2 separate regions of the Homo sapiens genome follow, and region 1 is linked to region 2. The links come from fine-mapping of genetic effects on gene expression. Tissue or cell type: whole blood. Region 2 holds a variant in brackets; the other region holds the start of a gene. All regions are shown on one strand. Distances are between the middles of the regions.

Region 1 (8,102 bases), 35 kb before region 2:
TCAGGAGTTCAAGACCAGCCTGGCCAACATGGTGAAACCCCATCTCTACTAAAAATAACAAAAATTAGCTGGGCATGGCGGTGTGTGCCTGTAATCCCAGCTATTTGAGAGGCTGAGGCAGGAGAATCACTTGAACCAGAGAGGCAGAGGTTGCAGTAAGCCTGGGTGACAGAGTGAGACTCTGTCTCCAAAAAAAAAGAAAAAACAAAAAAAACCACGTATGCGTATATATGCCATACAAACTATATGAACCATTCGAGTTTTTTCCCATGATGATTACTACAATGGTTTTTAAAAAATTATATTTCCAAATAAGAGTACTCCAACTACTCGGTTTTGGTGCCCAGCTTGGTTGCACTCAGCGGCTACAAGGTAAACCCACCCCTTGTATGGCACTCACCCGTAAACGGCATATCTCAGAGGCCCACCGACATCCAGACTTCTAGAGTTTTCTTTTTTCCGCTTCTTCTCAATCATCTGGGCCAGGAAGTTCCCAAGTGCTGACAAAATGCCACTGTGGAGAGGGAGGTCATCAGAAAACAGCAGTGACCAGCAGGAGGGTGTCCCTTTCCCATAGGTGAATTAGCAGGGCCGTTCTGAGGCCATGCAGCAGATGGGCGGGGGGTAGGAATTCTTGTTAAAGCGGCTGCAATGTATAGTTCTTGTATCAAAAGGTGGAGACGGTGGACTTAAACACACAGGTAAGGACAAGTGGCTTTCCAGTATCTATGTCAACATCCTGGCTGTGATGTTATACTATAATTTGGCAGTTTGGGAGTTGGGAAGCTGTGTGGTTATGAACGGGCAACAGGACAGCCCTATCATGACGCTGTTCTGCATTTTGACTGTGGTAGTGAACACAAGAATGTACAGATGTGATAAAACTGTACAGAACAGATACAGCTACAAGAAAAATGGAGAAATCCGAATAGGATCTGTGGACTGTGTCCACGCAATGCCCTGGTCGATACTGCACTACGTTTCACAGAATGTAACCAATGGGGGACACTGGGAAGGTGTGCAAGGAATCTCTCCATGTTAGTCTTGTAACTGTTTGTGAATCTACAATTATCACAATAAAAATTTCCATAAAAAGGTGGAACAGGCCCAGTGGCTCCCTCCAGGCCTTGGTTTGTATTTGCCTTCTGAGAAGCTCTCTGGACTATAAAATCCAAAATTCCTAGCACGGACCTAGACACCTTCTCGATCAGATCCCTGGCGATTCCCTTCACATCTCCTGCCTCTTGCTCAGGGTTCACTTTCTCCACACACAGATCTTCCCTCCCTCGGGACTGAGTCCAAGCTGCACCTCTCTCCGCCTTTCTTTAACGCCGGCCTTCCCTTCAAAACCTAACAGAGACCTTTGCCCTGCTGTTCCCTGTGCCAGGAGAGCCTCTGCTCCACTTCTTTACACAGCCTGTTCAATGTCACCTTCTCAAAACACCTTCCCTGGCCGTGTCTCCACCCGCGCCGTGCGGACCCGCGCCCCGCAGACTCGCTCCCTTGGCCCTGTCTCCACACGCTCCATGTGGACCCGCTCCCCTGGCCCTGTCTTCACCCGCACCACGCAGACCCGCTCCCTTGGCCCTGTCTTTACCCGTGCCCCGCAGACCCGCTCCCCTCGCCCTGTCTTCACCCGCGCCCCGCAGACCCGCTCCCTTGGCCCTGTCTTCACCCGCGCCCCGCAGACCCGCTCCCTTGGCCCTGTCTCCACCCGCGCCATGAGGACCCGCTCCCCTGGCCCTGTCTTTACCCGCGCCCCCAAGACCCGCTCCCCTGGCGCTGTCTTCACCCGCGCCCCGCAGACTCGCTCCCTTGGCCCTGTCTCCACACGCTCCATGAGGACCCGCTCCCCTGGCCCTGTCTTCACCCGTGCCCCGCAGACCCGCTCCCCTGGCCCTGTCTTCACCCGCGCCCCCAAGACCCGCTCCCCTCGCCCTGTCTTCACCCGTGCCCCGCAGACCCGCTCCCCTGGCCCTGTCTTCACCCGCGCCCCCAAGACCCGCTCCCCTCGCCCTGTCTTCACCCGTGCCCCGCAGACCCGCTCCCCTGGCCCTGTCTTCACCCGCGCCCCCAAGACCCGCTCCCCTCGCCCTGTCTTCACCCGTGCCCCGCAGACCCGCTCCCCTGGCCCTGTCTTCACCCGCACCACGCAGACCCGCTCCCTTGGCCCTGTCTTTACCCGTGCCCCGCAGACCCGCTCCCCTCGCCCTGTCTTCACCCGCGCCCCGCAGACCCGCTCCCTTGGCCCTGTCTTCACCCGCGCCCCGCAGACCCGCTCCCTTGGCCCTGTCTCCACCCGCGCCATGAGGACCCGCTCCCCTGGCCCTGTCTTTACCCGCGCCCCCAAGACCCGCTCCCCTGGCGCTGTCTTCACCCGCGCCCCGCAGACTCGCTCCCTTGGCCCTGTCTCCACACGCTCCATGAGGACCCGCTCCCCTGGCCCTGTCTTCACCCGTGCCCCGCAGACCCGCTCCCCTGGCCCTGTCTTCACCCGCGCCCCGCAGACCCGCTCCCCTCGCCCTGTCTTCACCCGCGCCCCCAAGACCCGCTCCCCTCGCCCTGTCTTCACCCGCGCCCCGCAGACCCGCTCCCCTCGCCCTGTCTTCACCCGCGCCCCGCAGACCCGCTCCCCTCGCCCTGTCTTCACCCGCGCCTGCGGACCCGCTCCCCTTGCCGTGGCTTCCCCGGGCGCGCGGGGCCCCTGTTGGGTCCTTGGGTGGAACCTCAGCGCCGACCCCCGGGTCTGGGCGGGCCCTCCACGCGCTGGGAGGGCGGGATCCGCAAGGCGCCTCACAATCGCTGACTGCGGACGCGGGTGTCGCCGCGGGAAGTTCAGCGCCGGGTCGGAGGGCGCCCGCTCCGGGGGTTCTGACCCGGGCGCGCCCCCAGCCTGGTCCCGGCCCGGCGCTCCCGTCCAGGCCCCGCGCCGCTGCGGCCGACCTGGGGCCGGGGCGGCGTCCGATTCCCGCGCCCCCGCTCACCTGGTGGCCGCCTTGGTGAGCACCGGGTAGAGCCGCAGGAAGAGCAGGTACTGGGCGAGCGCCCGCCGCGGCAGCGCCCCGAGCCCGGCTTCGGCCCGCAGCCTGGACGCGGCCGGCGCCATCGCCTCCCCAGCGCCGTGCCGCCGGGGGCACCGACCCCACCTCAGGCTGGCCGGGCGCGGAGCCCGAGGCGCCGAGAGCGGAGTGGGGACCGCCTGACATTTCCGGCCCCACCGCGGCCCGCAGCGCCGCCCGGTCCCAACCCCACGGTGCGCCGCGCGCGCCTACCACACACTTTTCCCCGGTCCCTGCCGGCCACCTCCCCCGCCGGGCGCCGGCGCCAATTGGAGCGCCTCGGGGGGCGGGGGAGGGGCGGAGCGCGCCTCTTGATGGACGGCGGCATTTCCGGCTCTCGCGAGTCTGGGTGGGAGCGCGCCAAATTTCTCCCCTGAAGCAGAGGTGGTAGCCAACGGCTCCATGTCTCTGAGGAGCGGCGGGCGGCGGCGCGCGGACCCAGGCGCGGATGGCGAGGCCAGCAGGTGAGGGGCGCCCTCCTGAGGCTCTCGGGCCGGCCCTCCGGAGGGTGCCATGGGGCCGTCCTCGGCTGGCGCCGCCGAGGCGGGAGGGAGGCCCGGTTCCCGCAGCCGCCCGCACTCGCCGCGCCTGACTGGGGTAGGGCGGCGCGCCCCGACCGCCGACGGAGGGGCTCGGGGCGGGCGGAGGCGCTACGGGCGCGGCTTCTTTGCGGGGAAACGAGGCGGGCCGCGCGGCCTTTCCCTGCTCGGCTCTTTCTGAGGTTTTTCGGGCCTCGCCTTCCGCGCAGCTGCGTTTGGGACCTGCCGCGCGGCGGGGGCGATGAGAGCGGCGGGACCCGGGCCAGGCCCTGCGGGGTGGACGCGCGGCTGGGGAGGGTGCGGGGAGGGGCGGGGCCGGGGACCCTGCCTGGGGGCCTAGCGCTGGGGGAGGCCGAGGCGGGCGGATCGCTGGAGCCCAGGATCCTGTTCTAGATCAGCCTGGGCTACAGAGAGAGACCTCGTCTCCTCTGTTTTATTTTTTTGGGCAGGGAGTCCCGCTCTGTCGCCCAGGCTGGAGTGCAGTGGCGCGATCTCGGCTCACTGCAACCTCTGCTTCCCGGGTTCAAGCGATCCCGCTGCCTCAGCCTCCCGAGTAGCTGGAATTACAGGCGCCCGCCACCAGGCCCGGCTAGTTTTTGTATTTTTAGTAGAGACCGGGTTTCACCATGTTGGCCAGGCTGGTCTCGAACTCCTGACCTCAGGTGATCCGCCCGCCTCGGCCTTCCAAAGTGCTGGGATTACAGACGTGAGACTCCGCGCCCGGCCCTTCTCTTGTAAAAACAAGAAAAATTAGACAGGCTGGTGGTGCGCGCCCGAGGTCCCAGCTATTAATACTCCCGAATCCGAGCCGGAGGTTCACCTGAGCCCGGCAGGTCAAGGCTGCTGTGAGCCGGGATCGCGCCACCGCACTCCAGCCTGGGCGACGGAGCCAGACCCAGTCTCAAAAAAAATAGAGCAAGGATAAGACGCGGCTGCTTGGTGGCCAGAGCAAACGGTAAACATGACCGGAGGACTGGCCTGCCATAAGCAGAAAACGGATGAGGCCCGGCGCGGTGGCTCACACCTGTAATCCCAGCACTTTGGGAGGCCGAGGCAGGAGGATCACCTGAGGTCAGGAGTTCGAGACCAGCCTGACCAACATGGAGAAATCCCGTCTCCACTAAAAAAATACAAAATTAGCGGGGCGTGGTGGCGCATGCCTGTAATCCCAGCTACGCAGGAGGCTGAGGCAGGAGAATCACTTGAACGCGGCAGGCGGAGGTTGCGGTGAACCGAGATCGCGCCATTGCACTCCAGGCTGGGCAACAAAGAATGAAACTCTGTCTCAAAAAAAAAAAAATAGAAAAAACGTGTGAGAACGTGAAGCTTTTTACAGACACTTAGCTGAACAAAATTCTTCCCAGAGGAGAAACCAAGTGGTAAGGATCCCTAACTGCTGTTGTGCTCATCGCTGTCTGTCCATATCAGGCAAGCCCTAGAGAGGCAGGTACCCTTAGGGTCTACATGGTGTGTTGGAACTTGGAGCTTAGAGACGGTTACTGACTGCCCTGCTTCAGGACACAGGACTGCACTCACGTGCTCCACTCCACTGCCCTGCCCCAAGCTCAGTGATGGCCTCCAGGCAGGGGGAAGGCTGCTGCTGGGATAAGTACAAGTGATGGCTTTTACCTTACATGCTTTATGTGGGTTACCTCATCTCATCCTTAAAACAGTCCTGGGAGGTGAGTGTGCCCCAGGAGGCAGTGGGTGCTGTTTGCCTGCGTTTCTTCTTGTGTGAAATGGGGACACCAGTGGCCTCCCTCGTAGGGGTTGTCATGAAAACTGAATGAGAGCATATGTGGAGTACTGGGACGGTGTGATACAGTAACCAGTCAATGGTAGCTCTCTGTGAATGAGAGCCTGTGTGGAGTACTGGGACAGTGTGATACAGTAACCAGTCAATGGTAGCTCTCTGTGAATGAGAGCCTGTGTGTAGTACTGGGACGGTGTGATACAGTAACCAGTCAATGGTAGCTCTGTGAATGAAAGCCTGTGTGGAGTACTGGGACGGTGTGATATAGTAACCAGTCAATGGTAGCTCTCTGTGAATGAGAGCCTGTGTGGAGTACTGGGACGGTGTGATATAGTAACCAGTCAATGGTAGCTCTGTGAATGAGAGCCTGTGGAGTACTGGGATTGTGTGATACAGTAACCAGTCAATGGTAGCTCTCTGTGAATGAGAGCCTGTGTGGAGTACTGGGACGGTGTGATACAGTAACCAGTCAATGGTAGCTCTCTGTGAATGAGAGCCTGTGTGGAGTACTGGGACGGTGTGATATAGTAACCAGTCAATGGTAGCTCTCTGTGAATGAGAGCCTGTGTGGAGTACTGGGACGGTGTGATATAGTAACCAGTCAATGGTAGCTCTGTGAATGAGAGCCTGTGTGGAGTACTGGGACGGTGTGATACAGTAACCAGTCAATGGTAGCTCTCTGTGAATGAGAGCCTGTGTGGAGTACTGGGACGGTGTGATACAGTAACCAGTCAATGGTAGCTCTCTGTGAATGAGAGCCTGTGTGGAGTACTGGGACGGTGTGATACAGTAACCAGTCAATGGTAGCTCTCTGTGAATGAGAGCCTGTGTGGAGTACTGGGACGGTGTGATACAGTAACCAGTCAATGGTAGCTCTCTGTGAATGAGAGCCTGTGTGGAGTACTGGGACGGTGTGATATAGTAACCAGTCAATGGTAGCTCTGTGAATGAGAGCCTGTGTGGAGTACTGGGACGGTGTGATATAGTAACCAGTCAATGGTAGCTCTGTGAATGAGAGCCTGTGTGGAGTACTGGGACGGTGTGATACAGTAACCAGTCAATGGTAGCTCTCTGTGAATGAGAGCCTGTGTGGAGTACTGGGACGGTGTGATATAGTAACCAGTCAATGGTAGCTCTGTGAATGAGAGCCTGTGTGGAGTACTGGGACGGTGTGATACAGTAACCAGTCAATGGTAGCTCTCTGTGAATGAGAGCCTGTGTGGAGTACTGGGACGGTGTGATACAGTAACCAGTCAATGGTAGCTCTCTGTGAATGAGAGCCTGTGTGGAGTACTGGGACGGTGTGATACAGTAACCAGTCAGTGGTAGCTCTCTGTGAATGAGAGCCTGTGTGGAGTACTGGGACGGTGTGATACAGTAACCAGTCAATGGTAGCTCTCTGTGAATGAGAGCCTGTGTGGAGTACTGGGACGGTGTGATATAGTAACCAGTCAATGGTAGCTCTCTGTGAATGAGAGCCTGTGTGGAGTACTGGGACGGTGTGATATAGTAACCAGTCGATGGTAGCTCCCTGTGTGACACTTATCCCCATTTTTCAGATTTCTTACTGTCCCTGGATTAAAAGTGAGATACACAGCTCAGAGAAAGCAGTTTTGGGAGGAAATATGGTCCCAGTGAGCAGTTTTCTAGTCTACTTAATCCAACTTACTTGAGGCAAGGATATTTGGAGGACTGGCATAGAGGGCCGTGCGCCCCTGTTAAGAGGTGATGCCTCGTAAATAGCACTTCATTCACTCTTGATTTTGATAAAGATCTGGGACTCAGAACTGAGGCTGTTCTCTAGCAAGATTTGGAATATAGTTTTTCTGTGTTTTTGATTACGGGTGCATTCAACTATTTAAAAGATTAAACCTTTATTATACAGTATGGTGGTGTATCAGTTTCCTATTGCTGCAGTAACACATGATCACTTAGTGACTATATAAATTTATTCTCTTACGGTTTTAGAAGTCAGAAGTCGTAATATGAAAGTGTCTGGTTGGTTATATTTATTGTGATGGTTCCCGGGGGAGAATCTGTTTCCTTGCTGCTTCTTCATCTTCAGAACCAAGGGTTGCATCTCCTCTCCCCCCTACCCTCTCTCTCCCATCCCTTTCTCCTTCCTGACTCTAGCTCTCCTGCCTCACTCTACAAGGATTCTTGTGATTACACTGCGCCCACCCAGCTAAGCAGAATCTCAAGGCCCTTAATTTAGTCAGATCTGCAAAGACCCTTTTGTCTTGTAAGATAACATTCACAGGTTTGGGGGATTAGGATGTGGGTCTTTCATGGGGGGTGTCATCCTGCCTGCCTACCACAAGTGGTTATAATCTTTCATGAGAAGTAAGGATCCTAGTCTTGGAATATGGTCATTCTGCTCTTGAGTTGAAGGTGATCCAAGGAATACCTTCAGACAAAGGAAGGGTCTTCCTTTCTTTTTTTATCTTGTTCTTTTTTTATTTTATTTTTTTTTTAGACGGAGTCTCGCTCTGTCGCCCAGGCTGGAGTGCAGTGGCATGATCCCAGCTCACTGCAAGCTCTGCCTCCTGGATTCACGCCATTCTCCTGCCTCAGCCTCCCGAGTAGCTGGGACTACAGGCGCCCGCCACCACGCCCGGCTAATTTTTCGTATTTTTAGTAGAGACGGGGTTTCACCATGTTAGCCAGGATGGTCTCAAACTCCTGGCCTCAAGTCATCCACCCTCCTTGGCCTCCCAAAGTGCTGGGATTACAGTTGTGAGCCACTGCGCC
Region 2 (8,102 bases):
GTTATATTGAAAAGATAGGACGCAGGAAAAGCAAAAGGAGTAAAAAATACGTATACCAGGTAAATGTTAACCAAAAGAAAGCTGATGTGGCTGTATTAATACCAGACAAAATACTCTTTAGGCCAAAAGTATTAGGAAACATAAGGACTATTGTTACATAATACTGAAAGTCACAATTCTCTGGAAATATATACTAATTGTAACAATGTAGCCTCACATTAAATAATGTAAACATTTACCTAATTATAAGAAGAATTTACCTCCAATCAGTTTGGGAGATGTTAACATCCCTCCCTCAATTGATAGTTGGAGCAGACCAAAAATCAGCAAAAATATGTTTGGAATGACACAATCAACTAACTAGATTTAGTCACTAGCTATAATACATTTAGTGAACAAATGTAGTCTTGCACTAAAATTAGAGAATACCTATCCTTTTCAAGAATACATAAAATAATGACCATATATATACCACAGAGTAAGCTGCAACCAATTCTAGATAACTTAAATACAGACCATGTTTGGAAATTTAAGAAAAAAAAAACACATTTATAACTTGTGGATCAAAAAAGTCATAGAACTTAGACAATACTTGGAACTGAATGTAAATACAAATGCTATTAAAATTTGTAGTATGCAGTTAAACAGGACTTGTATACGCATTTATATATCTAAATGCATGTATTAGTAAAGAAAAACAAATAGAAAATTAAGTTTCCAACTGAAAAAGTTAGAGAACAACAGATCCATCAGAGGAAGTAGACAGAAGTTATAAAGAGTTATAAAGGTAACCAGGCATGGTGGTGCACACCTATAGTCCTAGCTACTCGGAAGGCTGAGAGGCAGGAGGATTGCTTGAGCCCAGGAATTTGAGGTTGTAGTGGGCTATGATGGCACCTGTGAATAGGCACTTCACCCCAGCCTGGGCAACACAGGGAGAACCCAACTCAAGAAAGAAAAGAAAGAGGTTACAAAATTGAGCCAGAATGAGTGAAACAAACAATACAACCAAAATGTTGTTCTTTGAAAAGACTTAGGAAAATAGTCACATCTTTTTCTTTTCTTTTGAGACAGGGTCTCATTGTGTCACCCAGGCTGGAGTACAGTGGCGCAGTCATGGCTCACTGCAGCCTTGACCTCCCAGGCTCAATTGATCCACCTGCCTCAGCCTCCTGCATAGCTGGGACTATAGGCGCACACCACCACATCCAGCTAATTTTTGTAATTTTTTGTAGAGACAAGGTTTTGTCATGTTGTCCTGGCTGGTCACATCTTTTTCAGGACAGAGTTTTTTATTTTAATGAAAACAGACATCATTATAGATATAGTAAAGCCTAAAAAAATGGAAGGATTCCCATTTTCTGCTAAACAGTTGGAAAACATAGATGGAACGGACAGTATCCTCAAGTTATGCACTGACCTAAGAAGTAATAAAAACCTGAATAGAACTTTAACCATTACAGAAATTGACACTTAAAAAGAAACAGGCCAGGCGCAGTGGCTCACACCTGTAATCCCAGCTCTCAGGGAGGCAGAGGCGGGAGGATAGCTTGAGCCCAGGAGTTCGAGACCTGCCTGGGCAATATAGCGAGACCCCGTTCTCCACAAAAAGAAAAAAAAAAGAGACGAAAAAAAATAAGTGTAAAAGAAACATCAAACCCAAATGATTTTTAAGAGAAAAAGGAAAAAAAAAACCCTTAGCTCATTTGGTAACCTTGGCAATCCTTGTTACTTTGGTAACATAATTGAAAACAGGAAAGGAAAGTTACGGGCCATGAACAATAGATGAAAAAATATCAACATACATGAACAATAACAATATGACCAACTAGGACTTATGCTGGGAATAGCAAGCACTGTTTAATTTTAGAATTTGCCAGGTTAGTTTTTCTTGGGAGAAATCCACTAATTCATCATTAAAGGAGAAGGCTCGTAAGATCATCTCCAATAGATGCAGAAACAACATGCGGTAAAACTTTAACATCTGCTCATGTTAAAGTTTGAACAATCAAAATCAGAATAGATGAGATGTTTCTTAACCTGATAAAGTGTTCTTGAAACCTAACAGCAGACCTCATACTTAACCACAAAACACTGGAAGCATTGAAGTAAGGAGTAAGAAATGGATGCCTGTTAACCACTGCTTCTGTTCAAAACAGTTTGGAGATCCTAGCCAGCATAATTAAACCAGAAAAAGAATTAAGGATTGAAAAGGGAGACATCAACTTATTATTTACAGGCGATGTAATTTGTTAACAGAAAATGTAAGGAAACCTAGATTTTGTGTTAACTTATATGTATTTCAGCAACAATTAGATACCAAGGTAAGATATAAAAGTCTATTGCTTTCATTTATACTAGAAACAAAATATTTTTTGAAAGATACCATTTACAATAGCAATAAATAATGTACTAAGGAATAAATTCATGGTAACAATGTGTGTAAGACTTTTACAGAAAAAATTACACAACTTTTTTCTTTTTGAGACATGGTCTTCCTTTGTCACCCAGGCTAGAGTGCGGTGGCAAGATCATGGCTCCCTACAGCCTAGAACTCTTAATCTCACGTTATCCTCCCACCTCAGCCTCCTGAGTAGCTGAGACTGCAAGTGTGCACCACCACACCTGGCTATGTATTTTTTGTAGAGGCTGGGTCTCACTGTTGCCCAGGCTGATCTTAAACTCTTGGGCTCAAGTGATCCTCCTGCCTGGGCCCCCCCCAAAGCACTGGGATTACAGGTGTGAGCCACCATGCCTGGCCTATACACAACTTTATTGAACATATAAAAATTTACCTAAGTAACAAAAAGAGGTACCATCTTTACAGATGAAAGGACTCAGTATTAAAATATGGCAGTTTGCCCCATATTAATTCATAAAATTCAGTGTAATTCCAATAAAAAAGAATCTGCCAAAAGCTTTTTGGATAGAACTTGACAGACGAATCCTAAAATTCATATAAAGGGTAAGGATAAGAATAACCAAAGAATTTTGAAGAATAAGGAGGGCACGTTGATCTTACTATGTAACGAGACACACTATCATGGCATCTTGACAAGATGAGAGGAGAGCAGTAGAGCCGATTGGGAGCCTAGAAACAGACTCCCCTGTTAGTCGGAAGTTGGTAGGTCACAGATCGTTAAGGAGAGAGTGGACTGCAGTGAGTGATGCTGGTGAAAATGGTTTTTCATATTTGGAGAAGTAAGTTGTTGTATCACACTGAGTGTGAAACTAAGGCTGAGTGTGATGGCTCATGCCTGTAATTGCAGTGCTTTGGGAGTCCAAGGAAGGAGGATCAGTTGAGCCCAGAAGTTCCAGACGAGCCTGGGCAACATAGGGAGGTCTCGTCTCTACAAAAAAAATCCGGCACAACATTAGGCATGGTTGTGCATGCCTGTAGTCCCAGCTACTTGGGAGGCTGAGGTGGGAGGATCACTTGAGCCTGGGAGGTTGAGGCTGCGGTGAGCCAAGATGACCACTGCACTCCAGCCTAGGTGACAGAGCGAGACCCCTGTGTCTTTAAAAAAAAAAAAAAAAAAAAAAAGGAAACTACAATCTTTGGTAAACAACTCAGGAGACTATGATGCTGGGGTGGGAAGGGCTTTTTTAAGGCACATGTGAAAAACATCACAAAGGGAAAGAATGATCAATTAATTAAAAGTTAAATCTTGTGTAGTCTGTGACAAGAAAGGCAGAATGTTGATAATTGTTGACACTGGTGATAAGAACATGGGAGCTCATTACTGTGCTTTCGTGTATGTTTGAAAACTTTCCTGATAGGAAGTCAACACACACAAACTTACATGTAGCACAGAAGTCACCATGAAACAAAGGCCTGAGTCACATTTTGAAGATGTTTAGAATGTATAAAAGTTAGAAATGGCTCATAAACGTGTTAGCTATCTATTGCTGCATAGCAAGTAACCCCAAAACTTAGCAACTTAAATGCACTCGTGTATCCGAGGGCTCCACTGGAGAAGGAGCCACTTCCGAGCTCCCTCCCATGGGGATGGCAGGACTCGGTTCCTCCTTGGCCTTTGTCTGGACGTTATCCTTAGTCCCCTGCTCCATGGGGCTCTTCACAGGACAGCTCACAGCATGGCACTGGACTTTTGAGAGAGTGCCAGCCAGGCAGAAGCCACAGTGTTTTATAGCTGCTCTCAGGAGTGGCATTCCATGACTTTTGCTGGAATCTGTTCATTACGGGCAAGTCACCGGGTCCCACCCCCACTCAGGGAAGGAGTCACACAGGGTGTGAACACCAGGAAGTGGGGGTCGTTGGGCCATTTTGGGAGCTGCCTGCACAGGGCCAAGATGTTCAGCCTTACTGTTGATGAGGTAAATGCAGCATGATGTATTTAGATAGCAGGTCACACTGAAGGCAAGTAAGTGTGGTGGCATCAAGTAGCAAGATTGTGGGAAGTAGGAAATCCCTGGTGCTAGAGGTGGAGGTGGTTGTTCTCCGGGACCAGGCAACACATACAGAGATGGTCATTGAGTCACAGTTTGTAGTTTTGAAAAAGTAGGCGCTTGTCATTCTTCATTTGCAAAGTCATGGGTAGGTAGGCTGATGTGTTTATATGATAAATCATTTCACATCAGTTACAATGAACGAACCATATGTGCATGTTTCACCCGGTGTCAGTCTCAAAAATACATGGCTGAATAAAGAAACAAGTTGCAGGGACAGGCATGTGGCTCACGCCTGTAATCTCAACACTTTGGAAGGCTGAGGTGGGTGGATCACTTGAGGTCAGGAGTTCGAGACCAGCCTGGCCAACATGGTGAAACCCCATCTTTACTAAAAATACAACAAAAAATTAGC[C/T]GGGCTTGGTGGCAGGTGCCTGTAATCCTAGCTTCTTGGGAGGCTGAGGCAGAATTGCTTGAACCCAGGAGGCGAGGTTGCAGTGAGATGAGATCGTGCCATTGCGCTCCAGCCTGGACAACAGAGTGAGATTCTGTCTCAAAAAAAAAAAAAAAAAAAAAGGAAACAAGTTGCAGTCAGATGTGTCCCACATGTTACTATTTAGGTTAAAACTTACAGCTGTGGCATGTGTCTGTGGACATGTGGTAAAAATTTAAAGGTGTGTGGGGGCAGACAGAAGAGGGCTGTACCCATTATTTGCAATATTTTCTTTCTTACAAAAAGCATTCTGGAGCAAACATGGCAAAATGCAAAGATTTACTTATTGGTGGTATTGAGTGACGTTTTATTTTTCGGTTTGATCTTTTCACTTTTTTTTTGAAAGAGGGTCTCACCCTCTCGCCCAGGCTGGAATGCAGTGGCGCAACCTTGGCTCACTGCAACCCCTACCTCCTAGGCTCAAGTGATCCTTCCACCTCAGCCTCCCAAGTAGCTGGGACCACAGGCCCACACAACCACACCCAGCTAATTTTTCTATTTTTTGTAGAGACGGAGTTTCACCATGTTGGCCAGGCTAGTCTCAAACTCCTGGGCTCAAGTGATCCGCCCACCTCAGCCTCTCAAAGTGCTGGGATGACAGGCGTGAGCCACCACACCCGGCCTTCACTATTAAAGGTTCAATAAACTTGTGTAAACGAACATCCCATTTCAGGTGATATACTTATACTAGATTTCGAGAAGTAGAATTTGTGGGGATGAGATCCTGAGATTTTTGTTTGCTTGTTTTTATGAGGCAAGGTCTCACTTGCCCAGGCTGGAGTTCAGTGGTGTGATCATAGTTCGCCGCAGCCTCCAACTCCTGGGTTCAAGTGATCCTCCTGCCTCAGCCTACCAAGTAGCTTGGGACTACAGGCGCACTACCACGCCTGGCTAATTTGTAATATATTTTGTAGAGACAGGGTCTTGCTGTTACCCAGGCTGGTCTCAAACTCCTGGCCCCAAGCAATTCTCCTGTCTTGGCCTCCCAAAGTGCTGGCATTCCAGGCATGAGCCACCCTGCGCAGCCCGAGATCCTGAGATTTAAGGCTTCACTGGGTCTTTCCAGGTCACGATGGCCGAGGCCTCAGAAGACAGTCCGAGGCCAAGTGCTCCTGACATGGAGGACTTCGGCCTCGTAAAGCTGCCTCACCCAGCAGCCCCTGTCACTGTGAAGAGGAAGCGAGTTCTTTGGGAGAGCCAGGAGGAGTCCCAGGACCTCACGCCGACTGTGCCCTGGCAGGAAATCTTGGGGCAGCCTCCCGCCCTGGGAACCAGCCAGGTAAGGCACACAGCTGTGATACTGTCTGTCTCTGAGGGGTCTGCACAGCCCAGGGAGCCCGAGATGCGTCCTGACCCCTAGGGAGGCTGCTTGTGAGAAAGTCATGGCGGGCATTCCCATCTCACCACTTGCACACTGGCTGTGCTCACCATCCATCCCAGGAGGAATGGCTTGTCTGGCTCCGGTTCCACAAGAAGAAGTGGCAGCTGCAGGCCCGGCAGCGCCTCGCCCGCAGGAAGAGGCAGCGTCTGGAGTCGGCAGAGGGTGTGCTCAGGCCCGGGGCCATCCGGGATGGTCCTGCCACGGGGCTGGGGAGCTTCTTGCGAAGAACTGCCCGCAGCATCCTGGACCTTCCGTGGCAGATTGTGCAGGTATAGACCTTGATCCAAGGGGAGGGCAGTGGCTCTGCTGATGGCCCAGGGAGGGGGTGTCCAGCTGGGCCCTGAGGTCTGGGATGGGAGGGTTAGAGTGGGCCTGGAGTTTCCTGCCCATCGTAGGGAGGCCTAAGGCCCTGTGCTGGGAGCTGCAAGCTACCTGGAAGGTGGCCCCGTCTGTGGGTTCCAGTGTGTCCTGTGATGTGCTGTATGTCCGTGTGGCCTTTCAGATCAGCGAGACCAGCCAGGCCGGCCTGTTCAGGCTGTGGGCGCTCGTTGGCAGTGACTTGCACTGCATCAGGCTGAGCATCCCCCGTGTGTTCTACGTGAACCAGCGAGTCGCTAAAGCGGAGGAGGGTGCTTCGTATCGCAAGGTAGGGAGGAGCTGGTGCTGCCTCTGCAGTCATCTGGGCAGCCTGAGGTGGCTTTCCCATGATCTAGCCTGGCCTCCAGCCTCCATCTCCTCAGTACCTTATGGGGATGTTCTAGGAATTCCTCAAAACAACGTGTGTGAGCGCTGAGCACCGAGCCTGGGGCAGAGCGAGTGCCGGGAATGGAGCTGCTGGTGTCCTTGTCACGATGAGCTTGTCTGCCCGCGAGGTCCATGTTGCGGGGACAAACCAAGTGGCATTGGTTAGAGATTGTGAACTCTGTCTCCGTAGGCTCTTTGGTTGTTAACAGCTTTATTGGGATGTAAAGTTACGCCATCCAACTCACCCATTTAAAGTGCAGAATTCAATGACTTTTAGTGGCATGACTATTGCCAGTCAATAGTGACATTTTCTTTTTTTTTCTTTTTTTTAATTTTACTTTGATTTCTGGGATCCATGTGCAGAAAGTGCAGGTTTGTTACATAAGTAAGCACATGCCATGGTGGTTTGCTGCACCCATCACCCCGTCACCTGGGCATTAGGCCCCACATGCATTAGCTGTTTATCCTGATATTCCCCCTCCCCTCACCCCCCCATTCGGATATTTTCATCACTCCAAAAAGAAACCTGGCATCCCTTACCTGTCACCATCCTCCCCCAGCCCTCAGTAGCCACTGATCCACTTCCTGTCTCTGGGTTTGCCTGTTTGGGCATTTGATGTAAATGGAACCCTACAGTAGGTGGGTCTTTGTGCTGGGCTTCTTCCACCTGCAGAAACTGCGAGGGTTTTCATGTGGCCATGAGTGCGCTGAGGCTCTTAGATGGCATCTCCACCCGAACTCCCCGTTGTTAATGTGTCGGCTCAGCACATTTCTTGACTGGATGCTGTGAATCACGTAAGAAGTGACACGTAGTTGGGGAGATGAGGTGTGCATATTTGTACCTACACAAGGAGGTTTTCTGGAGAAGGTGAAACTCGATTCCAGCCAGGTGATTCAGTAGAATGTGCATATAGAAAGTAGACGCAGAGCCAGGTGTGGTGGTTCACACCTGTAATCCCCGCACTTTGGGAGACCGAGGTGGGCGGATAACAAGAGGAAAGCGGACGCAGAGGCATCGAGACCACAGAGAACAGGTGGGACTGTGGGGTTTCTACACCTTCCTTTCGATGCGTG

What was found. PIP is the estimated chance that this variant, and not a neighbour inherited with it, causes the effect.
Region 1: POLE starts here. The variant in region 2 is fine-mapped to the expression of POLE in whole blood (TOPMed, PIP above 0.99).

What each region holds. Positions count from the first base shown.
Region 1 is chr12:132,682,675-132,690,776 of GRCh38, reverse strand. It overlaps POLE (DNA polymerase epsilon, catalytic subunit), which reads left to right and starts at 3,435. Exons shown (of 49, transcript NM_006231.4): 1 at 3,435-3,523. The coding sequence starts at 3,462. It overlaps PXMP2 (peroxisomal membrane protein 2), which reads right to left and starts at 3,190. Exons shown (of 5, transcript NM_018663.3): 1 at 2,985-3,190; 2 at 401-514. The coding sequence starts at 3,106. RefSeq lists a silencer at 2,675-3,984.
Region 2 is chr12:132,647,757-132,655,858 of GRCh38, reverse strand. POLE (DNA polymerase epsilon, catalytic subunit) reads left to right here. Exons shown (of 49, transcript NM_006231.4): 30 at 5,970-6,182; 31 at 6,344-6,553; 32 at 6,787-6,930. Among named protein-coding and RNA genes, the nearest start is that of P2RX2, 33 kb to the right of the region's middle. The variant C/T (reference allele first, on the strand shown) is at 4,826.